Regions from separate parts of the Homo sapiens genome. Here regions 2 and 3 are each linked to region 1. The links come from fine-mapping of genetic effects on gene expression. A gene starts in region 1. Each other region holds a variant in brackets. All regions are shown on one strand. Distances are between the middles of the regions. Region 1 holds the start of TNFAIP8 (TNF alpha induced protein 8). Region 2 overlaps TNFAIP8 (TNF alpha induced protein 8). Region 3 has its middle 62 kb from the start of FAM170A.

The links. PIP is the estimated chance that this variant, and not a neighbour inherited with it, causes the effect.
Region 2: its variant is the best candidate, but not a certain one, in a credible set for the expression of TNFAIP8 in monocytes (TOPMed, PIP 0.56).
Region 3: its variant is the best candidate, but not a certain one, in a credible set for the expression of TNFAIP8 in whole blood (TOPMed, PIP 0.81).

What each region holds. Positions count from the first base shown.
Region 1 is chr5:119,354,165-119,358,405 of GRCh38, reverse strand. TNFAIP8 (TNF alpha induced protein 8) reads right to left here and starts at 2,387. Exons shown (of 2, transcript NM_014350.4): 1 at 2,285-2,387. The coding sequence starts at 2,315. It overlaps LOC102723444 (a long non-coding RNA gene), which reads left to right and starts at 2,633. Exons shown (of 5, transcript XR_007058912.1): 1 at 2,633-2,708; 2 at 4,040-4,151. RefSeq lists silencers at 1,701-1,760, 1,558-1,852, 2,481-2,640 and an enhancer at 3,291-3,430.
Region 2 is chr5:119,385,738-119,389,978 of GRCh38, reverse strand. All of the region lies in intron 1 of TNFAIP8 (TNF alpha induced protein 8), which reads right to left. Among named protein-coding and RNA genes, the nearest start is that of TNFAIP8, 32 kb to the right of the region's middle. The variant T/C (reference allele first, on the strand shown) is at 2,065.
Region 3 is chr5:119,565,244-119,569,484 of GRCh38, reverse strand. No RefSeq gene overlaps it. Among named protein-coding and RNA genes, the nearest start is that of FAM170A, 62 kb to the left of the region's middle. The variant C/G (reference allele first, on the strand shown) is at 2,510.

The DNA.
Region 1 (4,241 bases):
GCACCCCTGGCACAGAGTCAAGTATGTTTTAAGCTCTGATGGCTTAACAATATCCCCAGTCATTTGCTTCTACATTCACGCATATGCAAAAATATGCTGGCCTCCAAGGACTTAGATTCAACCCCAAAGTATACTAGTCTCTCACTACAGTTGAGAAAAATGACTTAAAAGTATCTCCTCTTACAGCGTATCAGGCATGAAGCATCCAAAGGCAGTTTTCTTGCAATACAGACATTCTTAAGAACTCATGGTGATCTCACACTAAATGGGATACATAAGTTCACCAGGATGAAAAAAAAAAAAAAAGCTACGTATAAGAGGAAAAGGACTAGTAACGATAGAGAAGATAACTGAGTTATTTACACAACATAGCTCGCTTCATCGACATCTGAGTGGTGGTAGCTAACCAGAAGGTTCTAGATTACAGCCAATGAACCAGCCTTGGAGAAAACACACCCAAAACACACAGACACCTATCCTTCATTTCCTGGCAGAAGCTATATGATTCTATCTGATTAATAAAGTGTTCAATCTCCCTCAAGAGTTATTCAGTATCCCACCCTAATTGCTATCAATTTAAAATTCTACTACCTCAGATTATTTTAAAAGAAACATTCTGGGCTTTCTTTAAAAAGCAGAGCGCCATATCATTTGTGGCCGATCTGCAGAATGTAAATGATGACAAGTGGAGGGAAGGTGAGGAACAAGCAGAAGGGGCCCCATTAACCTCTTCATAGGCCAGTTTGCAGGCTGCTTCCAAACTTAAAACCAGAGAGCTGGGCCCTCGAGGAGGGAAGACTGTGGATGTTGCTATGGGAATGTATAATACACACTTTGGGATACTGTTTTTCCACTTTCTCTCCCACTCTCTCTTTCTCAAAAGACAGGGAAAACACACCTGAGAGAAAACGCCAGCTTAAGTGCTACTTGTAATTCACACAGAAGTTCACCCTTGAGTTCTCTCAGCCTGGTTCCTATTTGCCTTCAACTACCTTTGACTTTGAATAAACTGCTGGTATAAAGACATAGAAAAGAAAAGCATCTATCAGCACACAGCTCCATCAGAACACAGGACACGGCAAGAAAGCATTACTCCCCCCATACTCCACATCAAACTCAAAAACAATGCTCCTGGCTGTCATTTTTCATTCATGCCAGCCCCGTATTTCTATTAAACAAACCTCCTTTTTATTGACTATTTCCCTCACACAGCATAATAAGGTAAACGTGAGCCCACAAAGACTACATGGTGAAACACAAAGCTTTCCTCTGGGAGGGGAATCAGTAAAAGGCAGAAGAGGACAAGTTTCAAGGGCTCTTCCTAACTGGTGTCTACCAAATGGAGAAATGATGGGGCTGCTCCTCTGCCAGAACTGCTGTGATTGACTTGAAATTAACCAGCTTTCCAAGAGACTACATGAAAAGAAAGAGTATTTCACAATCTTGAATAGTCTCCTCTCTTACTCTCTAATTTTCCCCAACCACCCTTACTCCCACCCCCCACTTACAAGAGAACTTTTGTATACATAAAGTTTCAAGGAACAAAGCATACAAACACTCACACACAAATAAACTCCCCAAACTAACACCAGCGTATAATTGTGTTTTGGTTGGAGCTTTTCCAGCCCTGTCACCTGTTCTCTGTTAGGAGTAAATGAAACCCTTTGCTTTTGCGAAGTTAGAAACAGACAAACTCTTCTCAGTTTCAAGCTGCACAAGGACCCCCTCATATCTTTCAGCCCCCTCAAACCCCCAACGAAATGAACTCACTGCTGAAAACCCAGCAATGAAAAAAAATTAATCTATTTCTCAAATACAGATTTTCGCTTCCCCTCACTCAGCTTCCCCTTTTAGCCGGAAACATATAGCGTTTCTAATTTCTCAAACCCCTTTTCAAGGGACCCTCCACTCAGGGCTCTTCCAGGGATCCCGCTTTCAGTCTTTCTGATGCAGGCAGGCAGCCCTTTTCCAAGCACATTTTGCATTCTTGGAGTCCAAGTGGGGCTCTTTCGTTTCCAGAGAAAGCTAAAAAGCAGACTTAGTGGGCTGGCTGAACTAGGTCCGACTTTTCCTCCCCTCCCCTCTGAACGGCTGCGGGGGGAGAAGGGAGCCCAAGATGAGACCCGGGCTCCGCTTATCCAGCTCCGACTTGGCTTCGAAGGCGCAGGGCAAGCGGACAAAGTGCCCACCGCTCACTTTAAAACTCCCATCCTCTTCTACCACTGCCTTCCTCCAAATTCCTCCGCAGAACTTGGCCGGCCCCCAGGAGAAACCAGAATCCTACCTTCCTTGGATTCTTCTGCTTCGGAGTGCATAATGTCAGGATAACCAGCTGCAGGGGCGATTACCGCTCACATGTACTCGGACGAGCCGCAAGTTCGCTCTGCAGCGAAATCCGCACACGACGGAAAATAAAAGGAAGAAAGCCACTAAAATCAAAACCTCCCCGGGGCGGGAGAGCGGGTTCTGGTGCAGGGATTTTCAGGGGGAAAGTTCTGCAAGAGTGACGAATCGCGTGTCAGCTGGGCGGCGGGAGTCCGCCCCCGGAGCCGCGCGCTCGGGCCGGCAGCCGGGCGGAGGCGACCTGGCGGGGCTGGCTCGGCCCGGGCGCACGCAGGTGGGGCACAGGCCCAGACGGCAGCCGACTCTCCCGAGACACAGGGCCGAGAAGAACCGTCGGCAAACGCACCAGACGGGCGGAAAAAAAGGTATAAAAAGAAAAAAAAAGTCTCATCTCAGAGCACACTGTAGTTTTACATAAATAGCAAATGCATATAGGGTAGAACCAATGCCTCTGTATTTTTGGATTACATTTTTTGATGCCCATTTGACTTTGTCTTGGAGTCTTGCAACCCAAAAATTACGGATTTTAAAGCGGCTTTGGTATGTTATTTTTGTAGGAAAGTCGCATGGATATCGTCCATGGGGTTGCAAGGACCAGCTTAAGAGAGCACAATTTCACAAGTCCCAGAGCGGGGCCTTTTGAAGAAAGTGGAGCGGCCTCCACCCTTACCTTTGCACAGCAAAAGCAGACGGGGCTGCTTACTCATTCAGTATAGCCCCGGGCGAGCACTGGTACTCCAAGCACAGCCCGGGCACTCATTGCTGCAGTTACTCCAAAGGGCCTTCCTCAGGGGGAGAGCACGGTTCCCTCCCGGCTACCAGCAAAAACTGGGGATGAATTCCTTCAAAATGCCAAAGGGGAGGTTTTCAGGATTTGAAATGCTGATAGAATAAAGAAGCCGGACAGCCTTCACAACAGATCTCAATTCTGCCCCCGGGTCTGGCCCACAGGCCCCTACAAATTGGCTGAGAGGAAGTCCCCTTAGCTCTGTGGAGCCTTGGTTTTCCCTTCTGCAAAGCGGGGACAAGAGCTGCCACTGATAGGCCTGTCTTACGGAGGTATTTTGTAGAACACTTGTTTTATCGCCAGTCTGAGGCAAAAAGTCCTCAAATAACATATCTGAAAGATCCGCTTGGAAATTATGAGAAAAAAATATACTCTTTTGACAAATTTATTTTCCAGTTCGTTTCTTTTTCTTCGTTTCCGATTTTATATAGGCAAAAACCAATAGAAACACTATGGCAAATTTAGTGAAAAGAACGTACAAAAGACATGGATTTAAGGAGTCTGAACTTAAATCCAGTTCTGCCATCTATCATTTGTATGACCTTATGCAAATTAACCTCTCTGAGCCTCCAGTTCCTCATTTGTAAAATGAAGATAAAAATAGTATTATTTACTTCACAGATTTATGTCTGTATTAAATAAGGTAATATAAGCACAAAGGGATTTGAAAACCATAAGGACTACATAGATTATTACCATTGCACCATTAAAAGTAAATTTTTATAAAACATACTCTTGGGTTTTATTTCAGTATTGACTTTGAACAGAAAAGAGTGCTTATGCTATTCACAAGCAGTGAAGGCTATTATAAATATTAATGTAAGAGGTCTAGATATTAAATCACATCCTACTGCTGAGAGATTCTAACCTGCCTAAGATTCTAACATGTTATCTCAATTTCACTGAAAGAGCAGGATGAAGGGAGGAAGATATAGCCAGCCAGAGAAGGGAGAAGAGGAGAAACATCTGGAAAATATCAGTGTTGCAGAGCCTCCCGGAAACTGACCTCGCCACCGAAAGGGTAACAGACTGCACCCTTCCGAAAGTCACAGTTAACTTCATGGTCCCCTCTGCCACACATCCTGAGTCAGGAGCTGCTGATATGTATACC
Region 2 (4,241 bases), 32 kb before region 1:
ACTCTATGATACAGCACTTCAACTTCCTGCAAGAGAGTGTGTAACAGGCAAATCTACTGCCAACTAAGCAAGATCATTCCCCATTTACTGGTAATCAAGTATGAATCAAGATAGAGAAGTTGATCTCTGAGGCTTTCATATTTATCCTAGAGGAACTTCAAACCCCGCTCCAGAAACACAGCAGCTGTGTCACACTTTCCTTTTATTCTTTGGGTTATTCCAGTGAAGTCGTCTTTTTAAATGAGGTTGAAGCTCCTTGTTCCCCTCCACCATCTGAAGCTCTTTCTCCCCCTCCACCAAGAAGACATGCATGAGTAGATTTATTTTCCAGCATTAGAGAAAGTTTTTTTGAAGCCAACTGGGGCTTGTGGCTGAGAGTCGCTGGCCAGGGATGTGTGGTCTGTGCTCATGAAGTTTGTTTCTTTTTCTTGCAAATTAACTGCTGTTAGCCATTCCTGTGCAGGCTCATTTGTCAGTTCCACATGCTCTACCAGATCCCTTAAAAGTCTGGTGTATCTCAGAGCTAGTCCTGGATCAAGTTTTTCTCCTTCAGTCTATCCTCACCCCTGTGTGATCTCATCCACTGCCACAGCTTCAGATACCACCCATGTGCCAATGACTCCCATAGCCATAACTCAGCCCTGACCTCTTTTCTGGACTCATTTTGTAAGTGCATTCAAGATTTTTCTTTCCTTGACTATTTTGCAGGCATCTCAAATTTACCATATGCAAAACTGATCTTTGATTCTCTCCTGCCTCCCTACTAAGTGCTCCTCTTTCACTCTTTATGATCTCAATTAATAGCATCCCTTCCAACCTTTTGCTCAATCAAATCAGAGACCTGGGGATCATCCACCATACCATTCTCTCCCTCACCCAGTCCATTATTAAGTTCTTTCCATTCCACCTTCCTCCTGCATTTCTCTGAATTCTATCCATTTCCCTCCATCTCCACGGACAGCAGCCTAGTCCAAACCCCTTTCTATCTCTTTTCACATATCAGCCAGAGTTTCAAGAAATGAAATTTGCAAATGGGGCCGGGCGCAGTGGCTCACACCTGTAATCCCAGCACTTTAGGAGGATAAGGTGGGAGGATCACTTGAGCCCAGGACTTTGAGACCAGCCTGGGCAACATAGCAAGACCCTGTCTCTACAAAAAAAACTCAAAAAAAAAAAAAAATAGCTGGGCATGTAGTCCTATTTGCTCAGGGGGCTGAGGTGGGAGGACTGCCCGAGCCCAGGAGTTCAAGGCTACAGAGCTGCAGTGAGCTATAATCATGCCACTGTACTCCAGCCTGGGCGACACAGCAAGGCCCTGTCTCAGAAAAGAAAAGAAAAGAAAAGAAAAAAAAAGATGCTTCATGTAAGTTCTTTGCTAACTATCACACCTCCTTGTTCCTTAAATCCTCTTCATTTGCCTACATTTTTATTGTCTGCCTCTCCCTACTAGGATTTAAACTCTGAGAGCAAAGATTCTGTGTATCATGTTCACTGTGTCAACTTGCAGGCCTAGAGAGTGGCTGGTCCAGAAGCAGCAATCAATTTCCCCTATCTCATCCACAATATACTCAAATACTTTTCTATGAAAACATGTTGGCCTGTAAAACGAGAGTTGTAAATACATTAGTGGGTGTTTTTGTTTGTTGTATTAAAAGGTAGAAAAACAGGTATTTGTTTTACCTCACTAAACATGTGGTTTTTCTTCCCTCTAAGTGCGCTCCAGAGTATGATTTCTCTTACTGTCATCAACCAGTTCTTTTAAAGAGGAGAGATTTGTTGTGCATAATGGGAAAACATCCAAGGACAATAATGCAAATATTTAGAGTAAAAGCAAGGTGTAGTTCTGACTTGAACTGTAGCAGGAGATTAAACACAGGCCCACCTCTACTTCTGGCTGGATCTATGTTTAGACATGTGCCAGAGGGATACCTAAGGCATGTCCTGGGAAGCAACTAAGATGTAAACAGGAGATGTTCCCCAAGGAGAAAGTGCTGAAAATATTCATTCAGTTTTTTGCCTCTTAAGATCAATTCACTTGTGTTTGGAAACAGACATGTAAATTGT[T/C]CATTAATGAAGAATAATGCTGTATTTAAAAAAAAATACAAAGCATTACCACCACATTAAAACTGTTTAAGATTATTTTCTAGAAATAGGGTGTAAATGTTATTTTACATTACTTATCTTACCTCCCTCCCTCTCTGTCTCTGTATCTCCTCCCTTGGCCATTTCAGCAACATTTGCTGTAAGGCAAAGTGATATTTAGGGAATTCTGGCTTTAGCATCAAAATTATAAAGTTAGAGATAAATATGGTTAAAATATACTGACCCAAATATTCAAGAAAAAATATGCTCAGAAGGAAAAAAAAGTCCTTTGTTATTAATACTTAGTTTTATGAAAATTAACAAAAATGCCCCATAACATAACTACTCCCACTGAGAATTTTCTAATAAAGTACTCAAATCATTTTCTTTACAGTCTTACCAGTAAATACATAATTTTTTCCCCTCAAATCTATTATACTTGGGACTCTTTAACAGTGATGACAACAGATGTACATACATTGCAAATTCTTGCCTAGTTAAAACTCGATCCAGGTTTCCAATATTAGGAAGGATAGAAAAGATAATAATTTGGAAAGCATGTCTGGCTGTTGTCTGTTAATAAAAGTTCTTTAAATAAATATATAAAACCTTAGCTCTCTTGTATCTAAATAATTCTAAATCTAATGGGACTTAGTAAAAAGTCAGCTTTGGTGATAAGAAAGTGGCCAGAACAAACAACGAACCCTGTCATAAGAAGTCAGCAGGCGAAGAGTTGACCTCCCTACATGGAGATTTGGCAGTGCTCCAGAGAAAAGCAATGAACGCTCGGAGTAGCTAGTGATGTGTCAGTGTCACCAGCTTTCATACTCAAAATCCCAAAGTCAGAAATTCAACAGCATAGAGAAGAAACAACAGAGGGAAAGAGAGAGGGAGAAGGAAGGAAGGAAGGAAAGAGAGGGAGGGAGGGAGGGAGGGAGACCCAGTAGAAGCAGCACAGATATGAACTCTAAAGGGGGCTGCCCTGGAAGGGTCAGAAGCAACGACCATGGCAGCAAGCTGGAGGCAATCTTATCAACTAGAGAGAGAAGACAAGTGCCAGGCACCTTAATCCCAAAATTGGCCTTATGCCACACAGATGGAGGCTGTCACACAGAACATAGTCTTGGGAGAATCAATACATCTGAAGTCCTTAACCTGATACGGAATGCACATTTTGGGGTATATGCACATCCCCCCAAGTGGTTAAGAACCAGTGACAGGCACCATTACAGTGGCAAGCTAAGTCATTCACTCTGTTTCTTATACTCCAGAAAAATACATGCTAACCTTAAAAGGCAACATAGTAAAGAAGACATGTCAGAGAAAATGGTGACTTTGAAATACTCCTCCCCCGCAAAACAAAACAAAACAAAACAAAACACTGGGTTCTTTTGACGGGAGTATTAGGAATTGTCTAAGGCACTCTTCCAGATTCCCTTTATTGTCCTTCGCTTAGCTATTTTATACTCTGTAAATTGTAGAAAACTGATAATATTGCAAATGGCTCTTCTACATACAGACACAAATAAAATGTGTTCAGTGGAGCTGCATGCAATTGATTCCTGATTTTCTTGTTTGACTGCTCTTAAGATCCTCCTTGAACCAAATATAAGAGCTTACTGGTTCCCTCATTAATAAATGAGTTAAGTAAAATCTTCAATATGTGCAATTTGTATTTATATGAGAGTCATGAATTTATCCTCTTAAAAAACATACCTTGTAACACATATTAGAATGTTTTCCACCGAAAACATTTTTTTTAAAAAGACTGCAGTATGAACCTTTAATGCACTAGTGTTCTTTTTCTGTGGCAACTTATTTCCCCAGGGTCCTGGAAAACTATAGTATACTTATAAAAGTCCAAATACTCTGTAGCTAATGGTTCCATGAACTGCCACACTGCTCAGGGATATTACTGGTACTCGGCTTCCTCATCTGTAAGATAAGTACAATGATCCCCACTTTTTGGAGTTGTTCCAGAGATAAATGGACATGGACCACATAGATGTGTTTCACACAATCCCTATCACAGAACAGCCTTCTTCATAGGTTAAAGAACACAACAAATTAAACTTCAAATACATTCTGATGCTCTTTAGTACAGAATCACATTTGGCCAAAATTAATTCCTTCTGGTAGTATCATGAACTGAGAAATGC
Region 3 (4,241 bases), 210 kb before region 1:
AGAACAGTCAAGAGAACAGATCCTCAGGTATCGTACAACTGGCCCTGAGACCCAAGTCTAACATCATTTCTATTGGACCACATTCCCTCCCTTTTAAAAAGGATTTAGGAACCAGGTACGGTGTCTCAGCCTGTAATCCCAGCAACTCAGGAGGCTGAGGCAGAAGGATCACTTGGGACCAGGAGTTCAAGACTGCAGTGAGCTATGATTGTGTCCCTGCACTCCAGCCTGGACAACAGAGCAAGACCACATTTCAAAAAACGAAGGATTTAAACCAACACTACAGAGCAGGATAAATTTATTCTCCCATTTCATTAAGCAAAATCCAAAATGAACAGAATATATCAGGAAACACATTTTATCACTGCACTGAATTTTCTAATACTCACGACAGCCTACTTGCCTAAGACAAAACAGAGTTCTCCATCCACAGAGGGGACCAAGCAGAGGCTGCACAAACACATGTCAGGTACTTCAAAAAAAGGGACTGAAGCATTCATTGGGATGGCCCCGATGCATTAGAGTCAATTGGTTCTAAATTCTTTTCATTTCTCTGGTGGGCTACTCATTAAGAACAGACTCAAATTGCCTGTCAGCCTTTTCTGTAATTTTTACAGGTAAAATATTTCTGTGGGCATTCTAATTTCAAAAGACAGCAAAAACTCCGTATTTTAGTTGCAACATTTAAAATAACAACAATGTATGTTTTCATACTTGCCAGTTAATTTTCATCAAGTTAAAGCACACAGTAAGATGTTTCCTACTAGAATCCATGGGTTTAAAATCCTGAAATTAGCATACTAGTACCTCACAATCCCAACTGTGTGCATTTCTTGCCCAATTGTATCTTTACTATCTAAAGGTGTTTTCTTTCATCTTCTTTGAAGCATTCCTTCTCCTTTTCTTTCTATTGTTTACACTGTAAACGTAATGTTCTTTTTTTTTGAGACGGAGTCTTGCTCTGTCACCCAGGCTGGAGTGCAGTGACGCGATCTCGGCTCACTGCAAGCTCCGCCTCCTGGGTTCACGCCATTCTCCTGCCTCAGCCTCCCAAGTAGCTGGGACCACAGGCGCCCGCCACCACGCCCGGCTAAATTTTTTTTTTTTTTTTTTTTGTATTTTTAGTAGAGACGGGGTTTCACCGTGTTAGCCAGGATGGCCTCGATTTCCTGACCTCGTGATGTGCTCGCCTCGGCCTCCCAAGGTGCTGGGATTACAGGCGTGAGCCACCGTGCCTGGCAACTTAATGTTCTTAAGGAGCAAATCTGTGATGTTTATTACAAAACCTTGCAAAATTTTTAATAAAATTATTATAAATTCTGCTTGTTAAACTCAAGTAAAAGTATAGGTACATTAATATTTTCAGTGGAAAGCCTATCATGCCACATAGACTTTGGAGCTGAGTGAGCTGGGTTTGATTCCTGGTGCCATTACATCCTAACTTTGTGACTTTGGAAAAGTTTACTTTTCAGAAAATAATGATGAAAATTGCACGTAGCTCATGGGAATAAAATGCAATAATGTACGTGCCAGACCAGCATAATAGACAAAGCAGCATTTTACAGTGATTAAGCAAAAAGACTGCCTATATTCAGATCTCAAGTCTGCCACTTAATAGCAATATGATGTTGAGCAACTTAACCTCCCCAAACCTGTGTACTCATCTTTATAATGGGGGGCAATTACATAATCTACCTCATAGGTAGATTATATTGTTGAGATGATTGACTGGGATAATATTTGTAAGACCCTCAACACAGCATGCTGCCAGTGGTGGGCAACTCAGGGATAGTATTTCCCTTTCTTGGCCTCCTTCTTTCCAAGCCACCTCCATGTTTCCTGCTCACTCTTTCCTACCTTGCCATCCCACTTTGCCTAGAAGGAAAAAAACTTGTAACCTAGAGGCAGAATTCCTCATATGGAGAGAAACGTCTTTGTTTAGTTATCTACGTGTTAACACCATCATCAGCTGTGAAAAGAAACACTCTCATGGCCTGGTTGAGAAACAGAGCTAAACACTTATGCATAATAAAGTGGGAGAAGTTGGGAGCTTCTGGAGGTATGGGATATGAGGAGGGCAGATGTGAGAGGGGTCTCTGGTTTGTGACTTTTCAGCAGTGGGATTGGCCAAGCACTTCAAAGAATTAGAGTGCAAACAGCCTGCTAAGCTTAGCTGTATGTTGAGCCTAACACTTCAGTAAGTCTAGTACATATGGTGTGGTTTGGTGGAAAATATCAATGAAAAAGAATGCTATTCCACATTTGGATTCAATGCAATGATGAAAGAAGGGAATAGCTGAATGAGGTGAGATGAGAGACTAATAACTTCATGAAATCAGAAGTCGGGGTTTTAATTTCTCATGTAAGCAGAATAAGGACTCAAGCAAGCTCTTTTGATTTAAATATTAAATGAGAGGTGACCAGGAGGGCTAAAAAACTTGGGTTTCCACCACCTTCGCCCCACCAGTACTGTTAACATGTTAATCATACCATTTTCTCCTTTTCATCA[C/G]TTGCTTTTCGTTATGTATACATATACAGTGTAACTCTTACTTGATAAAGTAAAATACTTGATTTCAAAGCAAGGCTGAAACTCTAATGCTTATGGACTCCTAAAATCTTGAAACCAGAAGACGTTCTAGCCATGACTTAGTGCAAGCTCTTAAATTAACAGCTAGGAAGCAAGCCTGGAGAGTGACTTTCCCAGTTCTCATGGCAAGTTGCCAGCAGCAAATGGACTTGAGCTTTCAGCCAAGGGAGACCATTCCCTTCTTTAAGTGAGAAAGGGAATATATATAAGCCTGAGCAGGTAAGGTAGCTCACAAAACTAGGGAGCTATTCCTAGCTGTCTGCATATTTTCTTGAGTTGAGACATTCATTAATCCATTTTAGCAATGGACAATCTCTTTATATTAATTCTACCAATTAATTATGTCAATACATTATTATATCAGATACCTTTATAATGATAAATTAATGCTCTCCTTGGAGTGAAATATCATGATGAAACCCATTCTTTGACATATAAAAGTGAAATTAAGCATGAAAACAGGTCCCATTGATCATCAGAACTTCTAATATATTCATTTGCTTTCCTGTGTTTTGAGCTGATTTTCAGTGGAGTTGAGTTGAAGTGAACTTAGAAAATTCAATGCCTTTACAAAGAATATGAAGCTCTGAATAATTCATTTCTGTTGTAGTTTAATTGTTGAATAAATGATTAGACTAATTATCATTGAATTTATAAAAAGCAACTAAACATTTTAATTAATTTAATTAGGAGATTTGAAAACTGATTTTTTTAAATGGCTGAATGATAAAATCATAATTCTACAGCAATTCAGTGTGTTTATAATGGTAATTATTTTACTTTTAAGATCCACAAAGAAAATATAGATAAGCTATTGTATAGAAATCGGAGTAAATAGCCCATGTCTCAGACTTGTAGCTGTTATTCTTTAAAATAGTTATAAACTGAATTTAATTCAAGAGACAATTTATCTTTGCCAACTGTGATGGTTAATATTGAGTGTCAACTTGATTGGATTGAAGGATGCAAAGTATTGTTCCTGGGTGTGTCTGTGAGGATATTGCCAAAGGAGATTAACATTCGAGTCAGTGGACTGGGAGAGGCAGACCCACCCTCAGTCTGGGTGGGCACCATCTTATCTAATCAGCTGCCAGCTCTGCTAGGATAAAAGCAGACAGAAGAATGTGGAAGGACTTGACTTCCTGAGTCTTCCGGACTTCATCTTTCTGCCATGCTGGATGCTTCCTGCCCTTGAACATCAGAGTCCAAGTTCTTCAACTTTTGGACTCTTGGACTTACACCAAAGATTTCCAGGGGTTCTCAGGCCTTTGGCCACAGACTGAAGGCTGCACTGTGGGCTTCCCTACTTAAGAGGTTTCAGGACTCAGACTGGCTTCCTTGCTCCTCAGCTTGGAGACAGCCTATTGTGGGACTTCACCTCGTGATCGTGTGAGTCAACTCTCCTTAATAAACTCCTCTTTATATATACATCTCTCCTGTTCTGTCCCTCTAGAGAACCCTGACAAATACCAACTATAAGATTTTATCAGTAAAAATACAAAATATATTTGTTTGCATATGGAGTGTAAAAGAGGGGGGTGGAGGTCTAGAAGAGATGAGTCCCTGAGGTGTTGTAAAAAGACACTTAAGGAATGAAACCTTAATACATAAAGAAAGGCACTAACAAGGTATAAGCTAGGGGCACATTTTCAAC